Homo sapiens: one gene and its partners. The protein of the gene in region 3 interacts with the protein of the main gene of each other region in a biochemical or structural test. Each region holds a gene or a part of one and is shown on either strand. Other genes may lie near its edges.

What was found.
Region 1: the proteins of DVL1 (region 3) and KLHL12 are reported together in a solved structure, tested with the Homo sapiens proteins (one study listed by BioGRID).
Region 2: the proteins of DVL1 (region 3) and CCDC88C form a complex in vitro, tested with the Homo sapiens proteins (one study listed by BioGRID).

What each region holds. Positions count from the first base shown.
Region 1 is NC_000001.11:202,890,620-202,896,271, reverse strand, and holds the end of KLHL12 (kelch-like protein 12), read left to right. Parts: intron 1-554; coding exon 555-750; intron 751-1,522; coding exon 1,523-1,681; intron 1,682-1,989; coding exon 1,990-2,088; intron 2,089-2,846; coding exon 2,847-3,033; intron 3,034-3,612; coding exon 3,613-3,739; 3' UTR 3,740-5,152; downstream 5,153-5,652. UniProt on the Homo sapiens protein: Substrate-specific adapter of a BCR (BTB-CUL3-RBX1) E3 ubiquitin ligase complex that acts as a negative regulator of Wnt signaling pathway and ER-Golgi transport.
Region 2 is NC_000014.9:91,302,821-91,309,857, forward strand, and holds part of CCDC88C (protein Daple), read right to left. Parts: intron 5,673-7,037; coding exon 5,531-5,672; intron 4,407-5,530; coding exon 4,218-4,406; intron 3,107-4,217; coding exon 2,945-3,106; intron 1,159-2,944; coding exon 881-1,158; intron 1-880. UniProt on the Homo sapiens protein: Required for activation of guanine nucleotide-binding proteins (G-proteins) during non-canonical Wnt signaling. Binds to ligand-activated Wnt receptor FZD7, displacing DVL1 from the FZD7 receptor and leading to inhibition of canonical Wnt signaling.
Region 3 is NC_000001.11:1,334,760-1,339,437, forward strand, and holds the end of DVL1 (segment polarity protein dishevelled homolog DVL-1), read right to left. Parts: coding exon 4,528-4,678; intron 3,895-4,527; coding exon 3,763-3,894; intron 3,678-3,762; coding exon 3,510-3,677; intron 3,425-3,509; coding exon 3,218-3,424; intron 2,297-3,217; coding exon of another isoform or gene 2,286-2,296; exon of another isoform or gene 2,259-2,285; intron 1,757-2,258; coding exon 1,383-1,756; 3' UTR 519-1,382; downstream 1-518. UniProt on the Homo sapiens protein: Participates in Wnt signaling by binding to the cytoplasmic C-terminus of frizzled family members and transducing the Wnt signal to down-stream effectors. Plays a role both in canonical and non-canonical Wnt signaling.

The DNA.
Region 1 (5,652 bases), about 200 Mb from region 3:
GAGGTTGCAGTGAACTGTGATTGTGCCACTGCACTCCAGCCTGGGTGATAGTGAGATCCCAACTCAGAAAAAAAAAGTTTGTATCTGTCTCCCTCAGCATGTCTCTCAGTGCTGAATGAACAATAGTAATTTCTGAGAAAACATGGAAATCCAACCCTCCTACCTTTTAAGGTTCTTATAATAAATCCTCATCCTTTGATTAGCAATGTGGGAATACTTTTCTACTTTATGGAAGGATATCAGTCTCTTAGCCCAGTGCCTTATGGAAGAGAAAGGAGTCAGATATTGGATAACAGAAAGCTGTTAAATCTTTTGGAAGCCTTGGAAAGAGGCAGAGATGCAGAAAGCTTGTATCTTTAAGAGCACCACAACAGGCATTTCGTTCAGTAGGTAGCTATTTGGGAGCCACTTGAGGATGAACCACTTAAGGAGGGTTCATGATGACAGGTGAAGAAGCAGAGAGGTGTGCAGATACAACAGGGAAGATAGCAAAAGGTAAGGCCCAAAACTTGCCTAACTGAAATGCTCTGTACCTCTTCTCTCCAAATCCATAGAGCATCACTCGTAAGAGACGTTATGTGGCCTCAGTGTCCCTTCATGACCGGATCTACGTCATTGGTGGCTATGATGGCCGTTCCCGCCTTAGTTCAGTGGAATGTCTAGACTACACAGCAGATGAGGATGGGGTCTGGTATTCTGTGGCCCCTATGAATGTCCGACGAGGTCTTGCTGGAGCCACCACCCTGGGAGGTAGGCTGGATGTGCAGGGCAATTATTTCCATCTTACTGTGGCTGGACCAGGGTTTTTAACCTCTCCTGTTGTCTGGCAGGAGCATGAAATACGGAGAAAAAATTAAGGTCAAATGTTATTATTATTTGAGACAGGGTCTCTCTCTGTTGCCCAGGCTGGAGTGCAGTGGTGTGATCACGGCTCACTGCAGCCTCAACCTCCCCAAGCTCAAGCGATCCTCCCACCTCAGCTTCCTGAGTAGCTGGGACTACAGGCATGCACCACCATGCCCAGCTATATTTTTGTATTTTTAGTAGAGATGGGGTTTCGCCATGTTGCCCAGGCTGATCTCTAACTCCTGAGCTCAAGTGATTGACCCACCTCGGCCTCCCAAGGTGCTGGGATTACAGGTGTGAGCCACTGTGCCCAGCCGACAAATACTCCTTTTTGCTTTCAGAAATATCAGTGTAATAGAAGCTGTTCAATATTCATGGATGTTTCATTATTGACTACAAAGTTGGCAAATCAAGTTCCAATGTGCTGGGTGGGGAACTGGCACTAGTTGTGTTTTTGCAAACTCCTAGGTGGTCTTTGAATGCTTTTAAGGATTTTGTTTTACCCCATTCTTTTTAGATGTCTTCCTTGTCTATAAAACTTAATTGACTTATCTCATTTAAAAATACTTTGTTTTTGCTCTCAGACTTTTAAAGGACCCTTGGAAAATTTGTAGAGGAAAGAGTTCTTAGAAATCTCTCATTCTCTAATAGTCTGTAATTTGTTTATTCTGAGCAGATATGATCTATGTCTCTGGAGGCTTTGATGGAAGCAGGCGTCACACCAGTATGGAGCGCTATGATCCAAACATTGACCAGTGGAGCATGCTGGGAGATATGCAGACAGCCCGGGAAGGTGCCGGACTCGTAGTGGCCAGTGGAGTGATCTACTGTCTAGGTATTGAGTCTGGGATGCAGGAATGGGAGGGAACTCAATGGGTAATGGGCTGTGGGTAAGGATTCCTTTTTACCAAAATGACGTTCATAGACTTCCCTTCAACTAAAACCCTGGTGTGTCTTAATATATTTTCCATTAATTGGGATTATCTTTTTCTTATAAGCATAATGTCAGATTTCTCTTAGAGTTATTGGAACTCTTGTGGGAAAATTGAAACTAAAATAATTAGTTGAAGCACTCAGAAAAAAACCGACCAGGAATGGGCATGAGGATTTACCACTCTTTCTGGAATGGTCTCTGTCTTCCAGGAGGATATGACGGCTTGAATATCTTAAATTCAGTTGAGAAATACGACCCTCATACAGGACATTGGACTAATGTTACACCAATGGCCACCAAGCGTTCTGGTAAGACCAGATCTGAGGGAGGGGACAATAGGCGATGCTGTCAGACCTTTACATATATAATGGTGGTGCATGGGACAAACCGTAGATTAATGTAAAAATGAGATTCTGCTCTCCTCCTTGTCTCTGTTTTCTCTAAATACTAGGATAAAGACAGTTGATACTTACAACTAGATTATAAATTTGAAAGCAAAAGCCTTCATGTCTTTGTTCTCTCCCTACGTTTTAGAATATCTAGTACAATTTTGCCTGTGTAGTACATGCTTAATAAATATCTGTTAAATAAAGTCTCTAATGCATAAGGACAAAAGAGTAGCTACTTACCTTCACCAAGAGCTTTTTGAAGTGGAGCAGGCTGGGATATAGAAAAGGAGAGAGCACTGTGCTGTTCTAGTTTACTTACTCTGGGTAAAAATTGCTTCAGAACCATAATCACAACTCCTTTCCCTCCATCTACCTTTATTGCCACCTTTTTTTCACTTCCTCCCTTTCTCCTAATTAGAAGGGTTGGGCTCTGAGTTAATGAAAGTAAAGAAGAGAACCATTTTTATTATTTATCTTTTATCATTTCAAGTCCAAGCCAAAGGGTTTATAGATGGAATAACTTGTGCTGGACTAGATTATTCTAGGCCCGTGTGGGCCCATTCCATATCCCTCATCTACTGTAGAACTCAGCTAGTCATTAGTGACCGTAGTTTATTTCTATAATTCAGATTCTAGGCTTAGTACCATACATTTGCTAATGCATTCATTTTCCCCAGGTGCAGGAGTAGCCCTGCTGAATGACCATATTTATGTGGTGGGGGGATTTGATGGTACAGCCCACCTTTCTTCCGTTGAAGCATACAACATTCGCACTGATTCCTGGACAACTGTCACCAGTATGACCACTCCACGATGCTATGTAGGGGCCACAGTGCTTCGGGGGAGACTCTATGCAATTGCAGGGTGAGGATTTAGAAACGAATCCAGACTCAATATGTAGCCAGAGCAAGAGTCTATGTGATCTGATCCTCATTTTTGGACAGAGACAAGACTTGGGTAGGGGTAGACATCTCCAGTGGCAACTTGATTTTTTTTATTAGATTTTTTTTATTTTTTAGAGACAGAGTATTGCTCTGTCACCCAGGCTGGAGTCTGAGTAGAGTAGCTGGGACCACAGGTGCACGCCACTGTGCCAGACTAGTTTTTTATGTTGCCTAGGCTGGTCTCCAACTCCTGGGCTCAAGCAATCCTTCCACCTCAGTCTCCCAAAGTGCTAGGATTACAGGTGAGAGTCACCATGCCTGGCCTCCAGTGGCAGCCTTAATGAAGGACTTGTGTGGAAAGGAATAGAAGGCTAATTTCTTTCTTTCTTTCTTTAAATTTTATTGAGACAGGGTCTCACCATGTTGCCCAGGCTGGTCTCAAATTCCCTCCTGGGCTTAAGCAATCCTCTTACCTCAGCCTCCTGCATAGTTGGGATTACAGGCACGTGCCACTGCACGCAGCTGACTCATTTCTTTCTTTTGCTTCTTTCCCACTCAGATATGATGGTAATTCCCTGCTAAGTAGCATTGAATGTTATGACCCTATCATCGACAGCTGGGAAGTCGTGACATCCATGGGAACCCAGCGCTGTGATGCTGGTGTTTGTGTTCTCCGCGAGAAGTGACCATTGTTGGAGCACCATCCAGAGCTAGTGACCAGTCCAGTGGACAGTTAGTGGGAGAATCAAAAATCCTTTCCAGAATGTCTGTTTCTCACTATGTGCACCGGGTGATTACAGGCACCAGTGCAGTGATGATTGTACTTATTTGACACATACTCCCCGTCGTCCTGGTTCTTGTTCCTGAGAAGGGTGGGTAACAGATATTCCAGGAAAAAGAATGCACATTGAATGGATGTGAGAGACCACATTGCCTCTCCCACTGCTTTGGGGAGCACTTTCCTGTCATTTCTAACTTACCACATGCTTGGTGTACTATATGTATGTTGTGCCTCATATGTTGCAAAGAACTAAGGTGAGTATAGCCTACTAGATATGGGCAATATCCAGCCTAGATGATTGGAAAGATACCAGTTTAAGTAAACTTGGTAAAATCCAAGTCTTTTTTTTTTTTTCCAGGAACAACTACATTTTCTCATATACAGGTAGCTAGGGGCAACACAGTTCCATTCTAGAGGGAAACAAAAGGGAGAGCCCCACAAAACTTTGGGGACAAGGGAGAGAGAGACTCATCTGACACTTCTTTTGGAGGTCAGGATTTGTATATCAGAATTGAAGTTAGAATTAAGTGAATTAAACTGAATTTGATTGTGAGTGAACCTAGAACAGCACTGAAGTATTACATAACCTGGAAGACTGAGAAGGGTATATTATTTGAAGGATCTTTTTATTTCCCCGAGGTCTTTCGCACTGGAGACAGCATAAAAGAGTGAACAAATGTTGGGATGAGAGAAGATGACATCAATGTGGGAGTTCAGTATAACTGGGGATAAACTAGAAGAACCTGTGATTTTACAGTCATCTTATTACCTGCCAGGGCTCATCTAGCCATGGCAATGTTTGCCTTGAATGGGGGTGAAAGCCTTTCTTTGTTGGATCAAATACTACTACACTATTACACTTCCACACTATTTATTTGGGGATGGGCTGGGAGTGACAGTAGCCTAGTAGTTCAGCTACCTGATTACTGCCCCATTCTTTTAGAAGCACATGTCTGCCAAGGAGTGGTTTGTACTGCTGTGTTTGGTACATCTAGTCTTTTTTCTGCTATAAGTTTTCCTTACCTGTCCTTTAGTGTAGATTTTATTCATCACAGGACAGAATAATCAAGGACAACCAAAATCCTTTTGTTAGTTTCAGTACCTCAGCTATCAACATTTCTGAGCTACCATTCAATGTTCCTCTGTGTCATGGAGTGAAATTCTTGTTTTGTGGGTATTAGGAGTGTGGGAATGTGATAACCTAAACAACCTTTGCTCTGAAATTCCATTTTTCCCTCTTTCCCTGAGTTGTATTGACCTACAGAGTTAATTTCCTTTGTATTTTTTTAAGAAAATATTAAAAATCAACGGTCTCAAATGCCGAGAGTTTGTGGCTAACCAACATTGCCTTTAGTAGATATTTGGGAGGGAAAGATGTAGGGATCAGCCGTAGCTCCTGTCTCTTCAAGCTGTTCATCTTGTGTGTTTGCCAACTAGTTCCGCTATTTCTATGTTAGACACAGGTAAGAGGTAGCCACTTTACACTTTGGAGATTCTCATCAGTAAAATATTTACCTGATTTGCCATATTCATTAGCCCCTCTGACGCTTGGAGTTACTTGAAAAAGGAATACAGAAAAGATCTTGAATTCACTTAGCACGCGCTTGAATTTCAGGGTTTCAGTCACACCAGTCCTTTTTTCCATTTGCTTTGAATTGTGGCATGTGATATAAACAGCTATGCGGAAGGCCTGCAAAACTGAAACAGTCCTGATGCTTCCAGAGCAAAAGGAAGGAGGAGCCACATGAGGAAGTTATTTTCCTTAAAAGATGCCTACCAACTTTGGCAGATGGATTGTGCATGCTAATTAAACCAAAG
Region 2 (7,037 bases), on a different chromosome or scaffold from region 3:
AGCTGGGAGGCCAGAGAAGGCATACCCCTACAAACGGAGCCGTGGAGAATTCCCTCCTTATTTCTGTTTTGGGGAGAAAAGAGACAGAAGAGAACCCTTAGGGATCAGGGCCCCAAAGGCCCACTGGAAATAGTAGAGGCATCCCCTTCTCCACACAGGAGCCCCTCTTACTACTGTCTTCAGTTGCACAAATTCCAAATTGCTAAAGGTAACGTTTATTTCCTTCCTTTTGGGAAAGCTCAGGTGCCCCAACAATGGGAAGCAGCTGGCCAAGAGATTTCCTGCAGGGGAGGTCCAGGGAAGTCCCAGTCCTCCGCGCAGCCTGACAGACTCCCCAGGCCTGGCCTCAGGCCCCGCTGCAGGCCTACCCAGGGGCCCCACCTCCACCCTCCTTCACCTCCCCTCCCCACACACCCTGCCTCTCCCCCGGGCCCTGCCCACTTCCCCAAAGCCCTGCCTCTCCTGAGACCCTCTCCTGAGACCCCACCTCTGCTCCAGGCTCCACCTCTCCTCCAGGCTCCACCCTTCTCACGAGGCCCCCGCCTCTCGTCCAGGCTCCACCCATCTCCCCCAGTCCCTGCCTTTCCCACAGGTCCTACCCACCTCCCCCAGACCCCGCCTCTCTCCAGGCTCCACCTCTCTCCCCAGGCTCTGCCTCTCCTCCAGGCTCCACCCCTCTCCCCAGGCCCCACCCCTCCTCCAGGCTCTATCACTCTCCCCCAGGTCCCACCCATCTCCTCCAGGCTCCACCCATCTTCCCCAGGCCCTGCCTCTCCCCTAGGTCCCACCCATCTACCCCAGGCCCCACCTTTCCCCCTGGGCCCAGCCTCTCCTCTGGACTCTACCCCTCCCCAGATCCCCTTCCTTCCCCAGGCCCTACCTCTCCCCGAGCTCCTTGTGCTCCAGCTCCAGATTCCGATGCAGTGTCTTTAGGCAGCTGTGCTGGCGGATGAGGGCCTCGTACTCGGCCGATTGCCGCTCGTGCAGCGTGCCCAGGTGCTCGTGGTCCTGCAGCAGGGCCTCGTAGGCCGCTGTAAGTTGCTCCTGCTGCCTCTGCAGGCTTTCGTTCTCCGTCTCCTTGGCCGTGTGGTGGTTCTGCAGCAGCGTGTACTGCGCGGTGAGCGCTGCGCTCTGGGAACTCAGCGTGGAGTTCTCCACCTGCCGAGAGGGAGAAGCGCGGCGTGGCGCAGGCCCCACAGTCAGCGAGGAGGGCTGGGGAGCAGGTCAAGTGCTCGAGCAGACACGAAAATAGCCGGGACCCTCAGGGCAGAAGACCCAGAGGGTACCCAGGATGGCTGTTCCAGAACTTAAGCAACTGCTGTGGGAAGGGGACTAAACCGCATAGACGGGCACTCAGAGGGTACTTCAGTCCTGAGCCACTCGCCACAAATGTGAGCTGCTGGGGCAGATGATGTCCTTTCCCTGGATAACTCCCTTGTGTGCTGTGCCCTCTCTGACTATTTTTTAAAAACCTCTTTTCAGCTGACTGTGGTGGCTCAGGCTTGTAATCCCAGGACTTCAGGAAGCAGAAGCAGGAGGGTCACTTGAACCAAAGAATTCAAGACCAGCCTGAGCAACATAGTGAGACCCCATCTCTACAAAAAAAAAGTATTTTTAACTTAGCTGGGCATGGTGTTGTATGCCTATAGTCCCAGCTACTTGGGAGGCTGAGGCAGGAGGACTGCTTGAGCCCAGGAGTTGGAGGTTATAGTGAGCTATGATTGCAGCACTGCACTCCAGCCTGGGCGACAGAGTGAAACCCTGTCTCTTACAATGAAAACAGAACCTATTTTCTAGAACAAGTATACAGAATATCTGTAAATAAGGATATAGAATACCTGAACAATACTATCAACCTACTTAACATAATTGATATTTGTATACCTCTCCATCCAACAACATCCAAAATCATCAGAAAACTGAAGAGGAGGGAATACTTCCCAAATCATTTTATGAAGCCAGAATTACCCTGATATTAAAACCAGATTAAGACTGTAAGAAAAATTCAAAATAGTAAGTCAATATACTATTTTCTTGTTACCAGAACAAATTCCGATTTCTTTGCCAAACAGTTTCCTGTTGATTGTCCTTGCCCCATAAGATACATATTTTCAAACTTTTCTCAGAAATTGCAATAAAAAGCCAGGTGTGGTGGCTCACGCCTGTAATCCCAGCACTTTGGGAGGTGAGGTGGGTGGATCATTTGAGGTCAGGAGTTCGAGACCAGCCTGGCTAACTTCGTGAAATCCCATCTCTACTAAAAATACAAAAATTAGCCAAGGCACAAGAATCACTTGAACCTGGGAGGTGGAGCTTGCAGTGAGCCGAGATCGCACCACTGCACTCCAGCCTGGGTGACAGAGTGAGACTCCATCTCAAAACAAACAAACAAAAACTGCAATAAATAATTTATTTCCCCACAGTCTATAGGCGATAAATGAAAACAAGCATCTGAAGTGGCACACAACCTAGTTCTGCTTGATGCTCTCAACAGTCTGGGAGCCACTTAATATCCTACACTTCCCTCTTAGAGATTAAAAATTCACATTAGCTTAAAAAGAAAGAGTTCTGCCAGGTTCTACAGTAAAGAAACCTGGTTAACTTTGTTAAACCAAGCTTAATCCTGAAACCTCTTTTCCAAGTCAGTCCTAGTAACACTTCAAGGAAAAGACTGGAAAACATGGACAAGAATGCAAGTAAAAGGAGAGAAATGAAATGAAAATGGCCCATGCAGCCATTTTCTCAATCACTGAAAATGGCTTAAAAACTATCACCCCCTTCACTGATCACTGTTTACAGCGGGTCTCTATTAACAAAATCCCAAACTGCTTTGTGCTTTGATCTGCTGCTTTTGAGGAGTCCTAATGCCCCCAGTTGGTCCCCAGGAGCCACAGATAAACATCCCGCCAGGCTTGTGACCACTGGTGTTGGGAGCCCCGCTCACCTGCAGCTTGGCGGTCTGGGTCTGCAGTGTGGTGTTGTGCTCCTGCAGGAAGGCGCTCTGTTTCTGCAGTGTCAAGATCTGGCTGCTGAAGGTCACGTTCTGGGTCTCCAGGTGCTGCAGCTGTTCCTTTAGCAGCTGCTTCTCAGCCTGCAGAGCTGCATTCTAGAAGATCGGGAGGCATGAGCGAATCAAACTCCAACTGGGTAAATGCTAACTGGCCACAGGTACTTGGGTTGTAACGAACCCTCAAAAGTTGATGTTTTGGGGGCCAAATCGAGGGTCCGCTGGATGAGGTCAGTATATTTTCTCTCTTTGAAAAAGATAATCAGCAGGATTTTTTTTAAAGGCTACACATCATGGGGACACTGCCTGACACCTGCATATGTGAGTGGGAGGTGAATGCATGCTGGAGTTAAAGCTGCTTCCTTTGTCTCTTTAATGCTTTCCTTTGTTTTCTGTTGAACACCCTAAGAGTGCATTTCTGTGAGCTGGTTCCATCTCCCATTGACTCCAACCCTGAGTATCTCACAGGACAGGGAGTCAAAGCCTTAGGCTACAGCCTTACTCAGAGGTGACAGCAAGTAGAATAAGGCACTTCACATTATGTGAGACTAATAAAGACCATGTTAAAGTTTGCCACCAACTGGGCTAAGGGCCAGGACCTGTAGTCTTTTACTATCCCTTATTAGCATGGGGCTTTGGGTCAAGTCTCTGAAATTCTGTTTGAGCTTTATCATCGATCAAATAATGAAAATCACCACTCTGAACTTCATAAAGTCATTGTTGAGAATCAAAGTCAGAGGCACGGACATGCATTAGCAGACTTTTTCTAGAAAGGGCCAGATAGGAAATACTTTTGGGTTTGCCAGCCATGGGGTTTCCATCTCAACCTAAAGAATCATTGTCACTGTAGGGGAAGCAGCCCCAGACAACCTCTAAACAATGGGCATGACTGTCTGCTAATAAAACTTTATTTACAAAAGCAGGTGGGGGCTGGAGTTTCCCAATCCCTGGTACTGGGCACTGAAAGACACAACACTACAGGAAGAGGCTGAATTGCCATGAAGGCTGTGTGTGCCCCTGATGTGAGAATCACGGAAGGGACCTCAAATGAAGAGGGGCCCACAGGACCTGCAACTCAAGACGTGTCCAACTAGATCTGGCTAAATCTCCTGTGTTCTTTACAGCAATGACAAGTCATCAATGGGACTACTGATAAGGCAGTCTCTCTCTCTCTGTCCCCGATGGACCATGCCCAGGCCAGCCCACTCACATTCCGCTCCAGCTCGATGGCCCGGTCCTTCACTCGGAGAAGCTCCATGGTGGCTTCCTTATGGCCGGGCCCCCAGGCCTCCTTCCCCTGGTGACTGGCGGCTGTCTTCCCCGCAGGGTGCTTGAAAGAGTTCTGCAAGTGCTGCCCCTCTCCCTGGTTCTGCCTGAGGGTCTCACACTCCTTCTTTAGCTACAGGTGTGACAATAAGCAAGGAGGCTTTAGGCGGAAGCAGCCTGGCCTGGAGCCCCGAGTGAGTGGCTGAGGGCAACCTGCACCACACCCTCCACACTCCCCATACTCGCCCGCCCTGGTCTGTGTAAGCCAGACGCGCTCCTTTTCTTTTGAGGGGAAGGCACCAACCCTCTGCCCTACATTTTCCCTTCCCTTCCAGAGAGGACAGGGAGGTGGGGGCCTGCAACCCGTTCCTGCCTCAGTCCCTGCTTTAGCCATGTGGCTTCCTGCTTTCCTGAGCCTCAGTTATCCACTCCCTCAAACAGAGGTGAGGCTGAGGATACAGGAGGTGAACAGGGATGAGGTCTCAAAGCCCCTGCTGGCACTGGAGCAGCTTTATCCAGATTCCTATTCAATCCTGCAGCCAAGAAGCATGGCATGTGTTCAAAACTGAGGCTGGAAGAGTGCGTGTGTGGAAGGGGGGAGTGTGCACACCTGATCACCTGTGAGAGTGTGCACATTGAGAGCACGTGTCGGGTGTGTACACCTGTGTGTGAGGAGCATGTGTTTGTGTGTGGAGTGTGCACACACGTGGTGGGCACATGTATAATACATGTGTGTAGAGAGCATGCATGTACATGTGTAAGGAGCATGTGCATATGTGGAGAGTGTGTATGTGTGGAGAACACACATCTATATGTGTATGGAAAGTGTGTTCACACATGTGGCAAATACGTGTGCATGCATGCACCCAGAAGTAGACATGTGCATGTCCTCATGAGTCCCTGTGCACCCATCTGTCTCATCAGAGGGCACCCGTGAGACTCTGCAGGCCGTTGCTCAGTGCCCAACGTGCAGTTTCATGGAGGGCTCTCAGGGGTGTTCCCGTATCTTGCCTGGTGGACTTGGTGCTGCTCTAGGCCACTGCCCGCCTCCCCGCAGGCCTGTGGCTCTTATTCTGGTTCTGTTTGGCCCTAGTGCGTGTGATTCTGAGGGTGGCTCCCTCAGTCACTCTGTGGCGCATCTACCCCTGCCCTAGAAAATGGGTATCCAGGCCACCCCACTGCTATACAGGTGAGGGGCTGGAAAGGGTGAGGCTGAGAATGGGCAGCTGGGCCCCACAGTGCAACCTCCACACTCACCATCTGCAGCTCACTCTCTAACTGGCGATTTAGGCTCGCTTTCTCTTCCATCTGTGCTTCTAAGAGCACAATCTTTTCTTCTTTCATGGCTAGTGTTGTTTTTAATGCTGATTCATTTCTGCCCTCCAAAATCTTGTATTTTCTGGAAAACACAAAGATACAATAGTATCACTTATCTACTTCCTCTCCGCAAGTTCCCAGTGTCCTCGCTGCCAACACATCACTCCTTCCATTAGGCTGGGTTACGGAGCTGCTGCAGCTTTTGGCCCAGAAGAACTCACGAGCCAAAACTCATCTTCCCAGAGCCCTTTGGGGGGTTCCCTGGGTAGAAACACCTGTGAAACCTTCAAAGGCGACACCACGGCTACAGTTTTACAGTCACTGTCTGAGGCAGGAATTATTATTGCCATTTTACCGAAGGGGAAACTGAGTCTCAGAAAGGTTAAGCAATTTGCCCAAGGTCACAGTGCTAGGTTAAGTGGTAAGTCTAAGGCCTTTCCACCAGAGAGGACTCCTACTATAAGGCATGTGGATCTTCTCGGTTACAAGTCCAGGAAAAGTCCAAGATGTTCGATTTCCCAAAAAACAAGATCAGGCCGAGCACAGTGGCTCATGCCTGTAATCCCGGCACTTTGGGATGCCAAGGCGGGAGGATCACTTGAGGTCAGGCGTTCGAGACCAGTCTGGCCAACATGGTGAAACCCCGTCTCTACTAAAAAAATACAAAAATTAGCTGGGCATGGTGATGCATGTCTGTAATCTCAGCTACTCAGGAGGCTGAGGCGTAAGAATCACTTAAAACCAGGAGGCGGAGGTTTTCATCACTGAGCCGGGATCACACCACTGCACTCCTGCCTGGATGACAGAGTGACACTTCGTCTCAAAACAACAACAAAACCCATTATCATTTAAGCAAGCATTGCAGGGAAAAACTGTAATAGTCTAATTTTTTAAAAAAATTAAGAAGCGTGGCTGGGAGCAGTGGCTCACACCTGTAATCCCAGCATTTTGGGAGGCTGAGGTGGGCAGATCGCTTTGAGCTCAGGAGTTCAAGACCAGCCTGGCTAATATGGCGAAACCCCCTCTATACAAAACATACAAGGATTAGCCAGGTGTGGCGGTGCATGCCTGTGGTCCCAGCTAGGTAGTGGTCTCCAGCTAGGGCTGGAGGATCGCTTGAACCCGGGAGGTGGACATGGAGGTAAGCCGAAATCATAATACTACACTCCAGCCTGGACAACAGAGCCAGACCCTGTCTCAAAAAAAAAAAAAAAAAAATTAAGAAGCTTTTTCATCAGACAAAATCTCCTTCCACACCTATCTGAGAACCTCAAGGAACAAGAGCTGGAACAGAAACGACCAAGGAACTTTGGGTTCAAGGAACCGCGTGAGGTCACAGCCCTCGGCAGTAGAGAGTTCATGGAGGTCTCAGGGGAGGGTGAGGAGCCTGCAGACTGAACAGTGGAGGAAGTGCTCCCACGATGGGGAGAGGGAGAAGAGGCCCTCA
Region 3 (4,678 bases):
AACCCACACCGTGAGCTCAGGAAAAGGACGCAGGGAGGCCCCGGCCAGATGGCTGGAAGCCCAAATCAGGCCCTGCCGACCTGACCATGTCCCACCAGGGCCCCCATCCTGCACCCTGCCAGGCACCACAGCAGTGGGAGGCCAGGTGGGGGCACACAGGCATATGCCCAGGGCAGAGCCCGCCGAGGTAGGGGTGGCACCCAGCTTCCTACTCTGCCCTTTGCCCAGTGGGTAGACAGCATCATGACTGTCACCAGTACCAGGGACAGAGCCCAGGTGGGGTGGGGGCGGGGTCCAGCACCACGGCCAGCACCGACCACCAGGACCCCGGAGCCAGCACCATGGACAGAAAACTGCCCACCAGGATCTGACGCCAGCACGCCGCCAGGCCCACACAGGGTCTCCGGTCAGAGTCCCAGGGTCAGCTCCCAGCAGGGCCTAGGGGAGGCTGGACCAGCTCCCTGTGCCTCATTCCAAGGCAGCCCAGCCGGAGAGAAGGGGCACAGGCCACACATCTGTCCCATAAAATTAAACGCTTTTTAGTGTTTAAAATAAGCAGCATTTACACAGAAGCAGCTCTATGTTAACCATCTAAACGCTGGGACTTTGATACAGTATCTACAGCACAGACACGTGGGGGCCAGAGAAGCCAGGAAGGCCGCGATGTGTGCGCGCAGTGTGTGCACTCACCAAGGACGGGCCACCTGACTGCCCATCTCCCCAAGACCTCCCTCCCTGTGGCAGCTGTGCACATCGGGGCCCCTTGACCCTGCGGGCCATGGTCCCTCCCTGCCCTGGCTGGGACACGGTGGGCAGGATGTCCAGCCCTCTCTCGTCTTCCGGTCCCGTCCTCCACGTACTTTCAGACTGTTGCCGGATGGGAGGAGAGAAGGTGCAGGCTGCTCCAAGGGGCAGCAGCAGGTGGGACAGATGACAGGGTCGCCTCCTCCCCCGAGTCACCGGCCAGGCAATAAATAAATAAATTAGATCCCTACTCCAGACAGGGGGCCTGTGCACCGCAGGGGGTTGCCCCGCATGGACCACCCTGGGGGCCTGGGCACAGCTGTGCAGGAGGTGGGGGTCAGCCGAGAGCCCGAGGGGGTCTTCCTCATCCCAGGAGGGATCCCCACCAGACACAAGGGGTTGGGAGGTCCGAGGCTCTCGCTGAGGGGCAGAGAGGGAGCGCCCCCAACACGGCTGCTCAGACACAGGTGCTGTCAGGAGCTGGAGCAGCCAGGCTGCCAGGGCAGATGGTGGTGGTCCAGCCTGCCCCCCACCCTGCCTCCCGTCCTGGCCCCCACGAAGGCAAGCCCACGCGAGCTCTGCATGCGGCAGGACCGCCAGCTCCCCACCTCAGGCAGGGCTGGGGCATGCGCCACGAGTCACATGATGTCCACGAAGAACTCGCAGGGGTTCCCCATAGCCTTCTGGAAGGACTGGCGGCTGCCTGTCAATTCCGGGGGGACGGCAGCCAGCTCCCGGACAGGGGGTCCCCCGGGTGGCCCCCCCACCACTGTATAGGCCTTGGTCGTGGGGTGGGGCGGGGGGAGCCCCGGGGCGGTAGCCGAGGCCTGACTGCGTGGGCTGCTGCCACGGCTGAGCTGGCCGGCCGGACGCTCTCGCCAGCTGCTCCCCACCCCACTCGGTGCCGTGTGATCCGATTCACTGCCACTGCCCCCAGCTCCCGCCGCCCGACGCTCCTTCTCACGGCCCGGGGCCCGGCGGCTGCTCCGGGTGGACCCACTGCTTTTGCTCCCTGGGAGTGAGAACAGGATGGGGAAGGAGCCTGTCAGCACCAGGCCCGGCCACGTCCAGAACAACCGCCCCCGCCAGGTGACCGGGCAGGAACGGTGGCCCGTGCAGGACGGGTGGGTGGGGCAGCCATGCAGGCGCGAGGACAGGGCCGGCACCCCCAGGGTCGCAGGGGCAGCTGCGGCAGGCATGGGCTGGTGGGGGCAGTGGGAGGCAGGCAGGGTCCTGGGGCAAGCTGGGCGCCCCCACACCTCACCCCGATGCTTGAGCTGAGGGCCTGGTCTTGCGGCTGAAAGACTGAGGTGCCAGCGAGGGCCCCTCATGCCCGGTGCCCCCGTGGCCATCCTGGATTCCCCACCCAAGGCCCCACTGTCCCCCCGGCCCAGGACCCTGGCCGACGGATGACTCAGCTCAGCCCTGTCCTGGGCTCCCAAGACGCAGTGGGAGCTGGAGGGCGTGGCTGGCTGGGGACATGCTGAGGGACCCCGGGCGGGACCCTGGCTTACCGGCCCAAGGTCCGCTCCGCTAGTCCTTCAGTCTAAGGCTTGTTTAGCACAAGACAAGGGATAGCACGAGTTACACGCCCGGCTGCCTGGCACCTGCCCAGCACCCACCCGCCACCAGTGGGGACTGACCGCGGGCTGGGCGGGGCTGAAGTGGGCGCAAGCGCCGGTCGAGGGTCAGTAGACACCCAGCGTGGCTTCTCTGCGGTCCCACACCCTCTGGCCGCCTCTCCTCTCTCGCCCTCCTTCCTGGGCCCTCCACGAAGCCACCTGCACCCCTCCCTGGCCTGCAGACGCCCCTGCTGGCCTCACCAACCCCACCCACTGGGGCCTCTGCTCCACCAGGCAACACCTCAGGAACACTCTGGATCCCCGGCCCCTAAACACACCCCAGCCAGGGGCACAAGGCTAGGATGCACGGCACCATCCACGTCAGGCTCCCTACCCGGGCTGCAGCTGCCACCCTCCTGTGTCCTGGGGCCTAGAAAGTGACCCTGTCAGACTCCTTGGCCACCCCTGCCCTGTCCTTGTCACATGGCCCATGGCCACATGGTCTCAGGGCCTCCTGCCTCTACCATAGGAGAACCACCAGCCGCCACCCCTACCAGGCACAGCCGCCCAGGCCGCCAGGCTCCTGGAGGCCCCTCATCCCAATCCCACCCAGATGAGGTGGGGTCCAGGCTGCCCCTGTGTGAGACGCTTCCCTGTCCTCCCCATTCACACTGGCTCCTGGATCCCCCTGGCACTTGCCTTTTCCAGAAGGAGCCCACCCAGGGCCCAAGTACACAGCAGGAGCATGGGATTGGGGTCAGCAGAGAAGCAGGGCGGAGCAGCAGCGGGGTGGGGTGGAGCTGGGGGTGGAGCAGCAGCGGGGTGGGGTGGAACTGGGGGCGGAGCAGCAGTGGAGTGGGGCGGAGCTGGGGGCGGAGCCGGGGAAGGGCAGGTAGGGGCGGCGTTCTCACCTTCACTCTGCTGACTCCCGGTGCTGCCGCTGCCATAGCTAAAGCCCGGGTCCTGGTAGGCAGGCGGGAAGCAGGGTGGGGGTCCCGGGTACTGGTAGGGGTAGCCCTGACCCAGAGGCCAGGGGGCAGCCGGGTGGGGCAGCGGGGCCAGCGTGTCCTGATCCGAAGTCCCACTGGAGCCACTGTTGAGGTTCAGGGTGGCGAGATCTGGCGGGGGAGGGTAGGTGAGGGCCGCGGAGGGGCCTCCGGCGTTCCCCTCCCCCCCGCCCTGAAGCCCGAAGCCCCCACTCACTGCTGCAGAGATCCCCGAAGACGTAGTAGCACTGCTCGGAGAAGGTGATCTTGTTGACCGTGTGCCGCAGGAAGCCGTGCTTCAGCAAGCTGCTGGCGTACTTCCGGGCCTCCCGCCGCTCCTTGAAGCCCTCCACGTGTGTGTACAGCCAGTCCACCACGTCCGCCCCTGGCCGGCACCAGCGGTCAGCCCGCAGCCTCGAGGCAAGCAGCCCTGCCCCTGGCACTATCCGCCCGCGGGGACGGCCACTCACCGATGACGGCATTGGCGATGGTGATCTTGAGCCACATGCGGTCGCGGATCTCCAGTCCCGAGTCTGGCAGCTGCATGACCCGGACGACGGCGCTCATGTCACTCTTCACCGTCAGCGGCGCCTCTTCCAGCTCTGCAAAGCACAGACAGCCCCGCTTCAGCCCCAGCATCTGAAGGCGGGGGACTCAGGGCCCTGCACCCCCAGGGGAGCCTCTGGGCAGAGCCTGCGCCAGGGCGCAAGCTGGACGGTGCGTGACAGCAGGGCCCCGGCCCACTGCAGGATGCACCCCCGTGAGGCTGGGGCGTGAGCAGGGGGGTTGGACATTTAGTCTCCCACTTCTACAGACACTTTTCATCAGGATCCTAGGCACAAACTGGGCTGACACCCCACCCTGCAGACCAGGAAGTAATGAGAACAGGGCAGGCCCCTTCCCCTCCCCGCATGCCCCACCCGAGAGCGCAGGCTGTTAGTCGTGTTAATGGCAGGAAGCAGAATGGAGACCTGGCCCCTGCCTCTGACGCCGTGGGTGCTCCCCGCATAGGGGCCCTACGTACATCCCCTGTTCCCAACACACAGACCATGAGCAGGATGGGCTGCACAAGGTGGGCACGGGTGCCTGTGCACACGTCTGTGCAGGGAGTTGGGGACAGGCAACACACACGTGTCACAGCCCCATGACGGCCACAGGCGGCCATGCTGGAGGCTGGCAGAGACGCCCCCTCCAAGCCTCGGTTTCTGCTGGGGCCCTCAGGAGCTGCCACTTACGTGGAGCACCAGGCACGGAGCTGGTTAGTGAGGAGGAGCTGGTGCGCGTGACGGCGCTGGAGCAGGGACTCGTACCGTAGCGGGGCAGGGCTCCTGTCAGTGCCGCCGTGTGGGACAGCCAGGCGGCGGGGTCGATGGGCCGCACCGGGTC